4 separate regions of the Homo sapiens genome follow, and all the other regions are reported to be linked to region 2. Evidence: microRNA targets listed by miRTarBase, many of them from high-throughput screens and not tested one by one. Region 2 holds a microRNA gene; each other region holds the end of a gene's coding sequence.

What was found. Region 2 holds the annotated microRNA hsa-miR-516b-5p (AUCUGGAGGUAAGAAGCACUUU, at 1,197-1,218, opposite strand). A microRNA usually pairs through its seed, bases 2 to 8, with sites in the 3' UTR of a target mRNA and lowers its output. Matches are read on the target gene's strand: a 7mer-m8 pairs with bases 2 to 8, a 7mer-A1 pairs with bases 2 to 7 and ends in A, and an 8mer does both.
Region 1: miRTarBase lists YY1 as a target of hsa-miR-516b-5p. Seed matches in the 3' UTR shown: 7mer-A1 at 627-633, 7mer-A1 at 1,506-1,512 and 7mer-A1 at 2,467-2,473.
Region 3: the mRNA of CCDC158 is a reported target of hsa-miR-516b-5p. The part of its 3' UTR that is shown has no 7-base or 8-base seed match.
Region 4: the mRNA of METTL8 is a reported target of hsa-miR-516b-5p. The part of its 3' UTR that is shown has no 7-base or 8-base seed match.

The regions. Positions count from the first base shown.
Region 1 is chr14:100,277,015-100,280,014 of GRCh38, forward strand. It overlaps YY1 (YY1 transcription factor), which reads left to right. Exons shown (of 5, transcript NM_003403.5): 5 at 404-3,000. The coding sequence ends at 586. It overlaps MIR6764 (microRNA 6764), which reads left to right and starts at 343; the gene lies at 343-403. It also overlaps a transcript of SLC25A29 not described here. RefSeq lists an enhancer at 1,319-2,299.
Region 2 is chr19:53,734,871-53,738,077 of GRCh38, reverse strand. It overlaps MIR516B1 (microRNA 516b-1), which reads right to left and starts at 1,233; the gene lies at 1,144-1,233. It overlaps MIR518D (microRNA 518d), which reads right to left and starts at 3,201; the gene lies at 3,115-3,201.
Region 3 is chr4:76,310,517-76,313,516 of GRCh38, forward strand. It overlaps CCDC158 (coiled-coil domain containing 158), which reads right to left. Exons shown (of 25, transcript NM_001394954.1): 25 at 2,523-2,730. The coding sequence ends at 2,654. FAM47E-STBD1 (FAM47E-STBD1 readthrough) reads left to right here. Exons shown (of 7, transcript NM_001242939.2): 7 at 1-614. It overlaps STBD1 (starch binding domain 1), which reads left to right. Exons shown (of 2, transcript NM_003943.5): 2 at 1-614. Among named protein-coding and RNA genes, the nearest start is that of STBD1, 5.3 kb to the left of the region's middle.
Region 4 is chr2:171,321,594-171,324,800 of GRCh38, reverse strand. METTL8 (methyltransferase 8, tRNA N3-cytidine) reads left to right here. Exons shown (of 10, transcript NM_001321154.2): 10 at 439-3,207. The coding sequence ends at 629. Among named protein-coding and RNA genes, the nearest start is that of METTL8, 110 kb to the left of the region's middle. RefSeq lists an enhancer at 347-446 and a silencer at 528-822.

The DNA.
Region 1 (3,000 bases), not on the chromosome of region 2:
TGTAAGTATAGGTAATACTTTAGCCCATAAATAAGTGAAAGAACTAGCAGTGCAGCTAGTAAATCTAACGTGGTTCTTTTTTGACAACTGACACCAGAACCCTTAATCATTTGTATTTTACTGTTGGAAATGTTTACAGCAGCACTAGGACTCTAGCCTGCATTTAGGAAGACTTGCCATTTTGCCAAGTGTTTTAAACAGTTCGTGAGGGCTCTCCTTGGGTTTTCGGGGTTGTCCAACCTGCCTGCTGATTCTAGACTATATCCACAAAGTTCACCCAGGGCAGGAATGAAAAGTGTTTGGTAAAATAAATAGGCTGTTCTCTAGCAAAGCAGTGAGCTCCTGACTCCCAGGGTCTGGTCAGAGTTGCTGAGTGGGTTGATCTCTGGTCTTTCCTTGACAGTGCACGTTCGAAGGCTGTGGGAAACGCTTTTCACTGGACTTCAATTTGCGCACACATGTGCGAATCCATACCGGAGACAGGCCCTATGTGTGCCCCTTCGATGGTTGTAATAAGAAGTTTGCTCAGTCAACTAACCTGAAATCTCACATCTTAACACATGCTAAGGCCAAAAACAACCAGTGAAAAGAAGAGAGAAGACCCTTCTCGACCACGGGAAGCATCTTCCAGAAGTGTGATTGGGAATAAATATGCCTCTCCTTTGTATATTATTTCTAGGAAGAATTTTAAAAATGAATCCTACACACCTAAGGGACATGTTTTGATAAAGTAGTAAAAATTAAAAAAAAAAAACTTTACTAAGATGACATTGCTAAGATGCTCTATCTTGCTCTGTAATCTCGTTTCAAAAACACAGTGTTTTTGTAAAGTGTGGTCCCAACAGGAGGACAATTCATGAACTTCGCATCAAAAGACAATTCTTTATACAACAGTGCTAAAAATGGGACTTCTTTTCACATTCTTATAAATATGAAGCTCACCTGTTGCTTACAATTTTTTTAATTTTGTATTTTCCAAGTGTGCATATTGTACACTTTTTTGGGGATATGCTTAGTAATGCTACGTGTGATTTTTCTGGAGGTTGATAACTTTGCTTGCAGTAGATTTTCTTTAAAAGAATGGGCAGTTACATGCATACTTCAAAAGTATTTTCCTGTAAAAAAAAAAAAGTTATATAGGTTTTGTTTGCTATCTTAATTTTGGTTGTATTCTTTGATGTTAACACATTTTGTATAATTGTATCGTATAGCTGTATTGAATCATGTAGTATCAAATATTAGATGTGATTTAATAGTGTTAATCAATTTAAACCCATTTTAGTCACTTTTTTTTTCCAAAAAAATACTGCCAGATGCTGATGTTCAGTGTAATTTCTTTGCCTGTTCAGTTACAGAAAGTGGTGCTCAGTTGTAGAATGTATTGTACCTTTTAACACCTGATGTGTACATCCCATGTAACAGAAAGGGCAACAATAAAATAGCAATCCTAAAGCAAGAATATGGCAGAACAAGATCTGTAAGCACAGTCTTATTTTCTTTTGTTGTCCAGAATACTTATAATTCTTGAGCCTCCCAGAAATTGGAAGCTAAATAAAGCAACTCAAGTTTCCTTTATTTTGCACTCAATTACAGTGATTATTGATGAAAGCGATGCATGGATATTTTAATACTTCCTACATGTCCTGACTTCTGAAAGAGAGTAGGTAACAGGCATCCCGAGTTCAGGAACTACCTCAGAACACCCCAGGCCAGGTTGGTCATAGGCTGTGATTTTAGCCCCCGGCAAGTGTGAGTGAAGCATCTGTACCACCGCGCAGGCTGAGCGCCTGCGCAGGGTAAGGTGCCACCTGGCAGTGGGGCACACAGAGGGAAGACCAGGCCTGTCCATCAGCCGGCTGCCTTCAGAGGCAGCTCCAGCAGGACCTTGGCTTGTCTGACAGGAAATGCTTGTGGTCGTTGGTTATTTGGTTTGAGAGCCCTTGTTCCTCCATCTAGTGGAGTCCTTATTAAATGCTAGCAATGTGGCAATTGAGTGCCAGTAGCTTAATTTCATGTTTCTAAATGGACACTGGGTGCAAATCGGCAAGGTGATTAGATTATTAGAAAATTCTGCTCAATGAGTACCTCTCACATTGTAACCTCTTAAATGTACGATTATAATGTTGGATCTTAGGTCAAATAACAGACTTGAGAATACTTTATAAACTGCCATGATACAGCAAAATCTCATTTATTCAAAGTGCAAACATACTGTGTGTCTTTCTGTTTTGTGTATGCTTGACTGCAAGATAAATGACAAACTAGCTAATATCCGAGATTTATTTACAAATGGCCAGGGACCCCATCAGGTGAAACACATAGCCCATTGTCTTAGAGCTTCTCCATCGGTCCTGTACAGGAGGATTGGTGACCTACTAACAGTGACCCTGTGGCTCTGTGGAATTTTGAAGTGCCTTTTGTGAATCATGAATGAAACATTTAACTTGAGACCCTTTAAAAAATTCATCCAGAATCTGTTACCCCTTGGGTAGTTTGATGGAACTGAGTTAAGCAGAAGACCCCAGCTGTTTTCTGGGTAAGCCAGGCTTTGCTGTATCTGGCAGTCAGGAGAGAGGTCAGCCCATGGTGGAGGTCTTCAGTGCCGAGGGCTCGGATGAGAACGTGTAGTTCTTTGACTTGGACCTGGGCAGCGTCTTCTATGGATGCCTGCCTTGTGAGCACCCACACCTTCCCTCCCCACTGTCGGGTTGAGTAGCCCCAGCGTGGCTGTGTTAGGAGTCCTTTGCCCAACATTGTGCTGCACTGGAGCCTGGCCCTGGCACTGTCCTCAGGACCCTGCCCAAGGGCCCACCGCAGAGCACACCTATGCTATGGGGAGCCCTGCTGGCAGCCCCGAGAGCCATGCCATGGCCTGCAGGAGCCAGGCTCCTGTGTGGATGAAGTCCCTCTTCCTCTGTGCCTTGATCCCTTGGGGGTGCCTTTGGTCATCTCTTCTGTCCTTTCCTGTCTCTGAAATAGTCATCACTCCCCTTGACTCTC
Region 2 (3,207 bases):
GTGTTCCCAGTCCAGAGGCCTTCACTCCTTCCAGTACCCCAGGAGGGTCACCTTGCAGTTCTCAGGGAGGAAGATGTGGTCTTCCACCCTTGTGAGCTTCCCAGGCATCAGGGTCTGCCCGCCCGACTCCATTCCCAAAGGATGTTCCGCCCAGTTCTCCCAGCCTCCTGCTTCCATCCAGGGACCACCCTTCAGTGGTAAGATTCACACTGCAGACAACCAGGACCAACCCATTATCCTCAATTACAGTGGTCACAACAGGCCACCTATTCAAAACTGATCTATGTGACATGCCCACAAGAGGCAGATCCAGAGCTAGAGAGATGCAAAGTGTTTGTCACGGTCTGGGTGGAAGAGTGGGGTGGGAACTGACTGCAAATGGGAATAAGCCTCTTTGGGGTGATGAAAATCTCCTGAACTAGAATGTTGGTGGTTGAAAATATGCTAAAATCATTCACACTTCAGAGTAAATTTCAAAAGGTTACTTCCTCAGTTCGCAAAAGTCAGAGACAGGGCCGGGTGCGGTGGCTGATGCCTGTAATCCCAGCACTCTGGGAGGCCGAGGTGCATGGGTCACCTGAGGTCAGGAGTTCCAGACCAGCCTGGCCAACATGGGAAAACCCCGGGTCTAAAAATACACACATAAAAAATTGGCCAAGTGTGGTGGCACGCACCTGAAATCCCAGTTACTCCAGTGGCAGAAGTTGCAGTGAGCTGAGATTGTGCAGCTGCACTCCAGCCTGGGCGACAGCGAGACTCCTTCTCAAAAACACATAAATAAATGAATAATAAAGAAAACTACAAATATTAGCCAGGTGTGGAGGAGTGAGCCTGTAATCCTAGCGACTCGGAAAACTGAGGCAGGAGAATCGCTTGAACCCGGGAGGTGGAGGTTGCAGTGAGGGGAGTTCCTGCCATTGCACTCCAGCCTGGGTCAGAGTGAGACTCCGCCCCCCAAAAAGAGGACCATTTAAGACCAAGAGATCTAGGTTGGAAGTGCCAACACACTCCAGCCTGGGCAACAGAGACCCTGCCTAAGATAAAAAATAAAACAAAAACAAAACCCAACCGTCATCCACGTCTGATGATAAGCATGCTCTCCAAATGTATTACCAAGATCAGCATCAACTTCAACGTTGCTTTTCTCAAAGAGTAACCCTCTGAAAGGAAGCACTTTCTTTTCTTTCACAAAACAGAAAGTGCTTCTTACCTCCAGATGGTCACAGCCTGAGATATTCTTGCTCGGTGCATGGTGGATTTTTTGTTGGAATGTTCTTCGACCAGGTTAAAATGGACACAAACATAAAGATGCATTTGTGGGCCCTGTTTGCATGTTTCCTGGAATCCAGAACATAAACCCCTAAAGGAACCATCTCCAGTTTCTTGTTTCAAAGAATCAGCAGGTTACCTTGTTCATCAAGGGGCAATCCTCCTGAGTTTTGTCTCTAGAAAGAAAAAGCAATGCCTACTACACATACCTTATATTTAACCAAGAGAATTGGGCTGGATTTCTAGAGAACAGCAATGGATTTTGAGCCAAGTGTTCACTTGAGTTCCAGTATAGGCACACAGTCCCAGTGGGAGCATCCAAAATGGAATCTACGATGTTGAAGAATATACATTGTCATACGCACAAATATTCTCCAGAATAGATCACAGGCTTGGTCATAAAAACTCCTTAACACAATTTTAACATAAATACACAAGTACAGGTGGGGCACGGTGGCTCACACCTCTAATTCTAGCACTTTAGGAGGCCAAGACGGGAGAATCACCTGAGGTCAGGAGTTCGAGACCAGCCCCGGCAACATGGTGTAACCCCATGTGTACAAAAAATACAAAAGTGAGCCGGGTGTGGTGGTGCATGCCTGTAGACACTAATGCAGCAGGCTTAGGTGGAAGGCGGAGGTTGCAGTGAGCTGAGAACGCACCACTACACTCCAGCCTGGGTGATAGAGCCAGACCTTGTCTCAAAAATAACCAACCAAACAAATAAAACACACACACACAGAAACAAACCAAAAAATACCCAAAGTGATATCAGAGTATTCTCTGTATTCAAATCAGCATTTTGTGTGTATATGATTATGTTATATATATGATATATTATATATATGATAAATTTAACTGGGGGCTGGGTACGAACAAAATAACAGTCCTTACTTTCTTCTTGTCTGTGCATGGGTTAATATTCACATGTAGTCCCATCTACCTAGGACTGGGGAGGGGCAGAGGCAGGAGGATCTAAGACCACTTTAGCCAGGGCGGCACAGTGAGACCCCTGTCTCATGCATTTATTTCCTGGTCATGCACCCAAGATTTCAGCTTCATTTCCCCAATAAACACTGAAGCCCCATGCACTCCACCTCCGTGCTCTTGCTCATCCCATCTGCAGGGACACTGAGGTCCCCTCAACTCCACCTGACCCCATGTGAGGTTCTATACCAGTGCCAGAATAATTTCCATGCAGTAAAAGGTGTTGATGGCTGCGCAGTGGCTCATGCTTGTATTCTCTGGACAACATGGTGAAACCCCCTCTTTAGTGAAAAAAAAAAAAAATAATAATAATAATAATAATACAAAAAGTAGCCGGGCCTGGTGGTGTGTTCCTGTAATTCCAGCTACTCCAGAGGCTGAGGCAGGAGAATTGCTTGAACCTGAGAGGTACAGGTTGTAGTCAGCCGGGATCGTGCCACTGCCCTCTAGCCTGGTCGACAGCGAGACTCCATCTGAAAAGTAAATAAATACATGAATAAAAAAGAAAAATACAAATGTTAGCCAAGGATGATGTCAGGCGCCTGTAATCCCAGCTCCTCAGGAAGCTCAGGAAGGAGAATTGCTTGAGCCCAGGAGACAGAGGTTGCAGTGAGCCGAGATCACGCCACTGCACTCCAGCCTGGGTCACAGAGCAAGACTCTGTCCCAAAAAAGAGGACTATCTGAGCGCAAGAGACCTAGGTTGGAAGTGCTTATGGACTCCAGCCTGGAAAATACAGATTTTGTCTTAGGAGAAAAAAAAAAAAAAAAGCACAGAACCCCGATATCATCCAAGTCTGATGATAAGCATCCTCTACAAATGTATTACTGAAGTCAGCATCAACTTCAACATTGAGTTTCTCAAACCGTAACGCTCCAAAGGGAAGCGCTTTGGTTTCTTTCAGACAACAGAAAGTGCTTCCCTCTAGAGGGTCACAGCATGGGATCTTCT
Region 3 (3,000 bases), not on the chromosome of region 2:
CATGATACGAAACTGTGATTAGAAAATATCTGGTCTGGATGTGATTAGTAAGGATACAAGATAATGTTCTAAGACTGCCTAATGCTTTTTGTTTGATTTTCATCTGCCAGGCGTTGTTATGTGCTATGAGGGTAGCAAGTACGTCTTTGTCTTAATGATCTAAGGCTGGTGTAGAAACAAAGGGCCTAATGAGAACCAATCATCATGGAAGTCAGTTGCGGGGGCAGCCCATAAGGAAAGGGAAAGTGAGTGGGGTTGGGCATAGGCTGAGTGAGGTGGCCTGAATGACACCTCTTAGAGGACTGTGAAGTACAGGCACAGCCCGACTGCAGGGAGGGATGCACCCATCATTTACCCATGGGAGCATCTGTAGGACCATCTCTCTCCCACTTCTTCTCCCCTCCCCCACCGCATCTGGCCAGATGGACTGTCCTACAGCAATCGTTTCCATCTGTCACCCTCTTCCCTCTCCTTTCATACCAGTCACTATCTTGGGTAACAAATTTATACAGGACAGTGGTACAGAAATACATCTTTGCTCTGAGAATACAGCAAATATTAACTTAAATTATTATAACTGAACAAATAATAAAACCTGAATTTTAATATCTTCATTTGATGTCTGAATTATTTGTCTAAATTTTAGTATCACAATAGCCTAGATGTAAAATAAAATACAAATATTTTCCTCCACTAATAAGAGACATATACAGAAAAGCAAACATCAAAAGGTACAGAAGACATGAAGATTCTGTTTTTCTCCTCCCTTTGGAGAAAAAGTTGACAATATTTATTCTCAAAGTTCACCTTTGACTGGAGGGAAATTCAGCACGCCTGTACTTGAAAATGAATTCTTACATGTTAAAATAACTTTTAATAAGTTTAACATCTATCAGTGAAATAATGTTTAATCCTTTTAAACAGATGGTCTTTGCTGAAAAGAATAAACCCAACTGAAAATAGCATTAGAAAGTACTTAAAAGAACTATGTTTGACAGTTTTTGGCTCATAGCACTTTTATGTTAAATTCATGTATACTGTTTACAGACTTCATAATGAATTTTATATTGTACCAGTAAGCTCTGCAGAAGGCATTCACCATTACTGCATGGAATGCCCAAACATGCCCATGAGGAAAATTAAAGGTAAAACAATTTAAGTAAAAGTCTCTCTAGAATTCTATTACTGGCTATTTTATCACTACCTGGTAAAATTAAAATTAATCTTTCAGTAAAGCCAACTGATCTAAGAGAGAAATATTACACTTTATATTTTAAAAATTCACTTAAAATTGGATGTGCTTACAGTTCTAACATTGTCCTTGAGAGCAGAAGCGTGAGGATCTTCTGGTGAGAGCATGCATGCCCTACTCCATTTGTTGTCTGCATAGGTTAGGGCTGCTGCTAGCTGCTGTAATAGACACCATCCATTTAAGAAGGCTGCAGCACCAGAGGCCGATTTCTTGCTCATGTAACTGTCAGCAGTGAGTCTTCCTGGCAGGAGGGCAGCTCCCCTCCTTGCAGAGATTCAGTTACCCAGACTCCCTTCTGCCCTGTGGCTCTGCCATCCCCTATAATAACCCTCATGTCCTCTGCATCCAGCCCATGGAGGGGAAAATAAAGTTAGGAAGAACACCCATGCATGTTAACACTTTGACCTGAAAGTGCCACATATTGCTCTGTCCACATTCTGTTAATGAGAACCCTCAGGCCACACCCATATACAAGGGGAGGCAGGATTGGGAAATAGAGACTCTTGCTGGGCAGCTGTTTCTCAGTGACAATTCCAGGTTATACAACAGGAACATAAGATTTATTTTGGACAGCTAGCCATCTGCCACGTTGTCCCTGATGTTTTGACACAACTGATACATTTTTGTATTTGTTCTTCTCTCATTTTATTTAGTTCACATATAAACCTCCCTAATTTATTAAAATTTAATTAAAGCAGACTGAATAGATATAATCTAGAAGTTACCAACTTGCTAAAGAGTAACAAAATCATTTTCTTTACTATTATTAATATGCAAAAAAGGGAAACTTTTGTAAAAGTTTTGACTGGGGGCCCTGATGTTAGGTTATCTGATTACCCTCACTGATATTGACAGAACAGTGAGTTCACAGTCACAAAATGAGCCCCTGTTAGTATGCTGAAATTTGTCCTCTGTCCTTGGTATTACACCACGTCTTTCACTTTCATGTGAAAGTAGTTCTTCCCCCAGATTTTTTTTGAAGCTAAATTAGATTGAATAAAACATTTAAATTAAATTAAAATTTAAGTAGAATAAAATAAATAAAATAGATTCTATTGTCTTGGGACCAGTAACAATAAAAAACCACAATTATTCCAATATATTAGAATAAGCACAAATTATATCTTATAATTAATCACCTTATAAGGTAATTATAATACCTTATTATGTATGAATACTTTATAGGTATTAATTGTTATAATGTATGAATACTAGCTAGTAGATGTTTGAAGTTTTACTGTGAGGGATTCAAGAATAGTTTATTTCAAAATAGAGTTTACAAGACAGGGTATCTTTTATTAAATTTTCACATAAAAAGAAAAAGTACACAGGGCACTAATTACGAGTAACACCACAATTAATTGGGCCTCATTCCTCTGTAAAGAATAGGCAAGCAACGAGTCATTTTAGTAACATTTTTTCCTGGTCTTTTACTTTCTGTATCCTCTTTTCTTGATTTCTGATCATTGAAGACATTGCTGAAAATGTTGATAAAACAGTTAGAATAACAAAATCTACTTAGGCTTTAATTCTACTATGTGCTACTTAAAAGATCAGCTTGATAGTATAGAATAGACATGTTCTGAGCTCAAGACATTCTTAAAAATTGTGATGTAGCATATTTTTGAAAAGGTTGGTGTTATGGAAGAGAGCTAAGGGTAAATCTTTAGTGTTTCAGGTGTTTTATTTACTTATTTATTTTGTAGAGACAGGGTCTCTCTATGTTGCCCAGGGTGGTCTAAGACTCC
Region 4 (3,207 bases), not on the chromosome of region 2:
CGTGAGCCACCATGCCCAACCAATTTCACATTTTTAAAAATGCATTTCTAACAGTACCAAGTGAATGCTGCATTCAAGGATTTCCCCAAATTTATGTGAGTACTTTTATAATCTGCCGTTTTGGGTTTCTGTAAACCAACAAAAACTCAGAAAGGGAGCACCTTTCAAAATATTGAAAGCTGCAACCAATAGTTTTATATATCTGTTGATGTCTGCCGTGTTAGTCTGTAAACAGGTGTATTTTTATATGCATGGTGTATTTTTGTGAAATAGAAGAAACTCGCTTGGTTTCACAGGTTTCCTTCACCAAATTGTTCTAGAGAGTGTTTCTTGTATAAATGAAATTTAGATGGTCAGTTATTCCATCAGTGTTCTACTCCTGACCTCCCCCATCTCTAGTCACATGTCATATCTTTTATTGCCATTTTTGTCTCACAGGGGAAGTCCACAGTATGTTCTGCAAAGCCAGTTTAGATGAAAAGCAAAATCTGGTTGATCGCCGCTTACAAGTTAATAGGAAAAAACAAGTGAAAATGCACCGAGTGTGGATTCAAGGCAAATTCCAGAAACCATTGCACCAGACTCAGAATAGCTCCAATATGGTATCTACACTCCTTTCACAAGACTGAACTTTGTAACATGTTAAGGTACAAAGCCAGAGGACTGTGCTATTCAAGGACTACTGTAAGTCTATTGTTTCTCAAAAGACAATGAGAAAAAAAGAAGAGAATTTGTATTTCCTGCCGTTTTGTCATAGGTGAGCTCCTTTGTGCATTTTAAGCACATGTAAGTGGTTCAGCACAGTATGCCTTTTTCTGTGCTTTGAAAACTTGATATGCTCAAGCTTGTTTGAATTTATTACATCTAACCATTTTGCTTGTTCCTTGATTTTTATAAGCATTCAATTAAGTTAGTATTATGTCAAGTAATTTTGAGAAAATGTAACTTGACATTTTTTGCAAGTAAAAAAAATTGTTTATTTGTTTAGGCTTAGTAAACCAGTTCCCAAACACAGTCAGACTCTTCCCATTGTCATCTGATTGCAGAGAGAAAGCACACCTTATTTCCAGGGAAAGCTACAACAAGCCCAAGGTCAAAGTGTATTATTTTTTGTCTTGTTGTTGTCTATTTTCTCCCAATTTTTTTTTGAAATTCAGAGGCTCATATCTGAAATAGAATTTTAGTTCCTCTTTCCTTTCCTAAAATTGGGGAAGTACAGCCCATGCTGACATTATTTTCAGGCTATTCTTAGATATACAAGTTGTTAGGCCAGGTGCAATGGCTCGCACCTGTAATCCCAGCACTTTGGGGGGCTGAGGCAGGCAGATCGGTTGAGCTCAGGAGTTCAAGACCAGCCTGGACAACATGGCAAAACCCTGTCTCTCCCAAGAATACAAAAATTAGCCAGGCATGGTGGCACACACCTGTGGTCCCAGCTACTCAGGAGACTGAGGTGGGAGGATCGCTTGAGCCTCGGAGGCGGAGGTTGCAGTGAGCTGAGATTGTACCACTGCGCTCCAAACTGGGTGACATGGTGAGACCTTGTCTCCAAAAAAAAAAAAAAAAAAAAAAAAGGTATGTAAGCTGACAAGCTCTTGTATCAAGGGCTTTTGAACCAGAGCAACTTCATCTTGAATAGGGACTGTGTAAAATGAAGCTGAGACCTACTAGGCTGCAATCCCAGGAGGTTAAGACATTCTTAGTCACAGGATGAGATAGGAAGTCAGTACAAGATACAGGTCATACAGACCTTGCTGATAAAACAGGTTGCAGTGAAGAAGCCGGCCAAATGCCACCAAAACCAAGATGGCAATGAGAGTGTCCTCTGGCTGTCCTCACTGCTACACTCCCACCAGTGCCATGATAGTTTACAAATGCCATGGCAACATCAGGAAGTTACCCATATGGTCTACAAAGGGGAGGCCTGAATAATCCACCCCTTGTGTAGCATATAATCAAGAAATAACCTTAAAAATGGGCAACCAGTAGCCCTTGGGGCTGCTCTGCCTATGGAGTAGCCATTCTTTATGTTTTACTTTTTTTTTTTTTTTTTTTTTGAGATGGAGTCTTGCTCTGGCACCCAGGCTGGAGTGCAGTGGCGTGATCTCAGCTCACTGCCAGCTCCACCTCCCGGGTTCACGCCATTCTCTTGCTTCAGCCTCCTGAGTAGCTGGGACTACAAGCACCCACCACCATGCCCAGCTAATTTTTTTTTTTTTTGTATTTTTAGTAGAGACGGGGTTTCACCATGTTAGCCAGGATGGTCTCAATCTCCTGACCTTGTGATCCGCCCGCCTCGGCCTCCCAAAGTGCTGGGATTACAGGTGTGAGCCACCGCGCCCAGCCTATTCTTTACTTAAACTTGTTTTCACTTTGCTGTATGGACTCAATTCTTTCTTGCACAAGATCCAAGAATCCTCTCTTGGCGTCTGGATCCAGACCCTTTCTGGTATCAGTGGTAAGCTCTGTTTAAGACAACTGTCATACCCAAGAGAATTCTTAAATTGTGGCAGTTAAAAATGTATTTATCCCCTCGAGGGCCGGGCGCAGTCGCTCAAGCCCGTAATCCCAGCACTTTGGGAGGCCGAGGAGGCGGATCATGAGGTCAGGAGTTCAAGACCAGCCTGACCAACACTGTGAAACCCTGTCTCTACTAAAAATACAAAAAAAATTAGCCAGGCGTGGTGGTGGGCACCTGTAATCCCAGCTACTCGGGAGGCTGAGGCAGGAGAATCACTTGAACCCGGGAGGCAGAGGTTGCAGTGAGCCGAGATGACACCACTGCCCTCCAGCCTGGGTGACAGTTGTTAGACTGCGTATCAAAAAAAAAAAAAAAAATTTATTTACTCCCTTGCTTCAAAAAGGACATAAGTTGGCTTGCAAATCACATTTTGTAGAAATGAAGTTTTTAAGATTAGTCTCATACTCATTACATAATATTTATTGACTACTTACATATTGAGTGCTAAATTCAGTGGAATAATATGAACAATAAAGACCCAGCCTTGTTTATGCTCTTCAGGGAGCATAAATAGAGTACAGCTGGCAAAACAAAATGTGCATATCCCAAACCTGTAAATCATGATCTAAGACAATATACAAACACTCAAATAGGGAACTTACCAGCTAGCAGACTTTGATTATGAACCACAGAACCTAGAATAAATAAATACTCTCTTGAAAGAACCATCATTGGAATAATTAAGT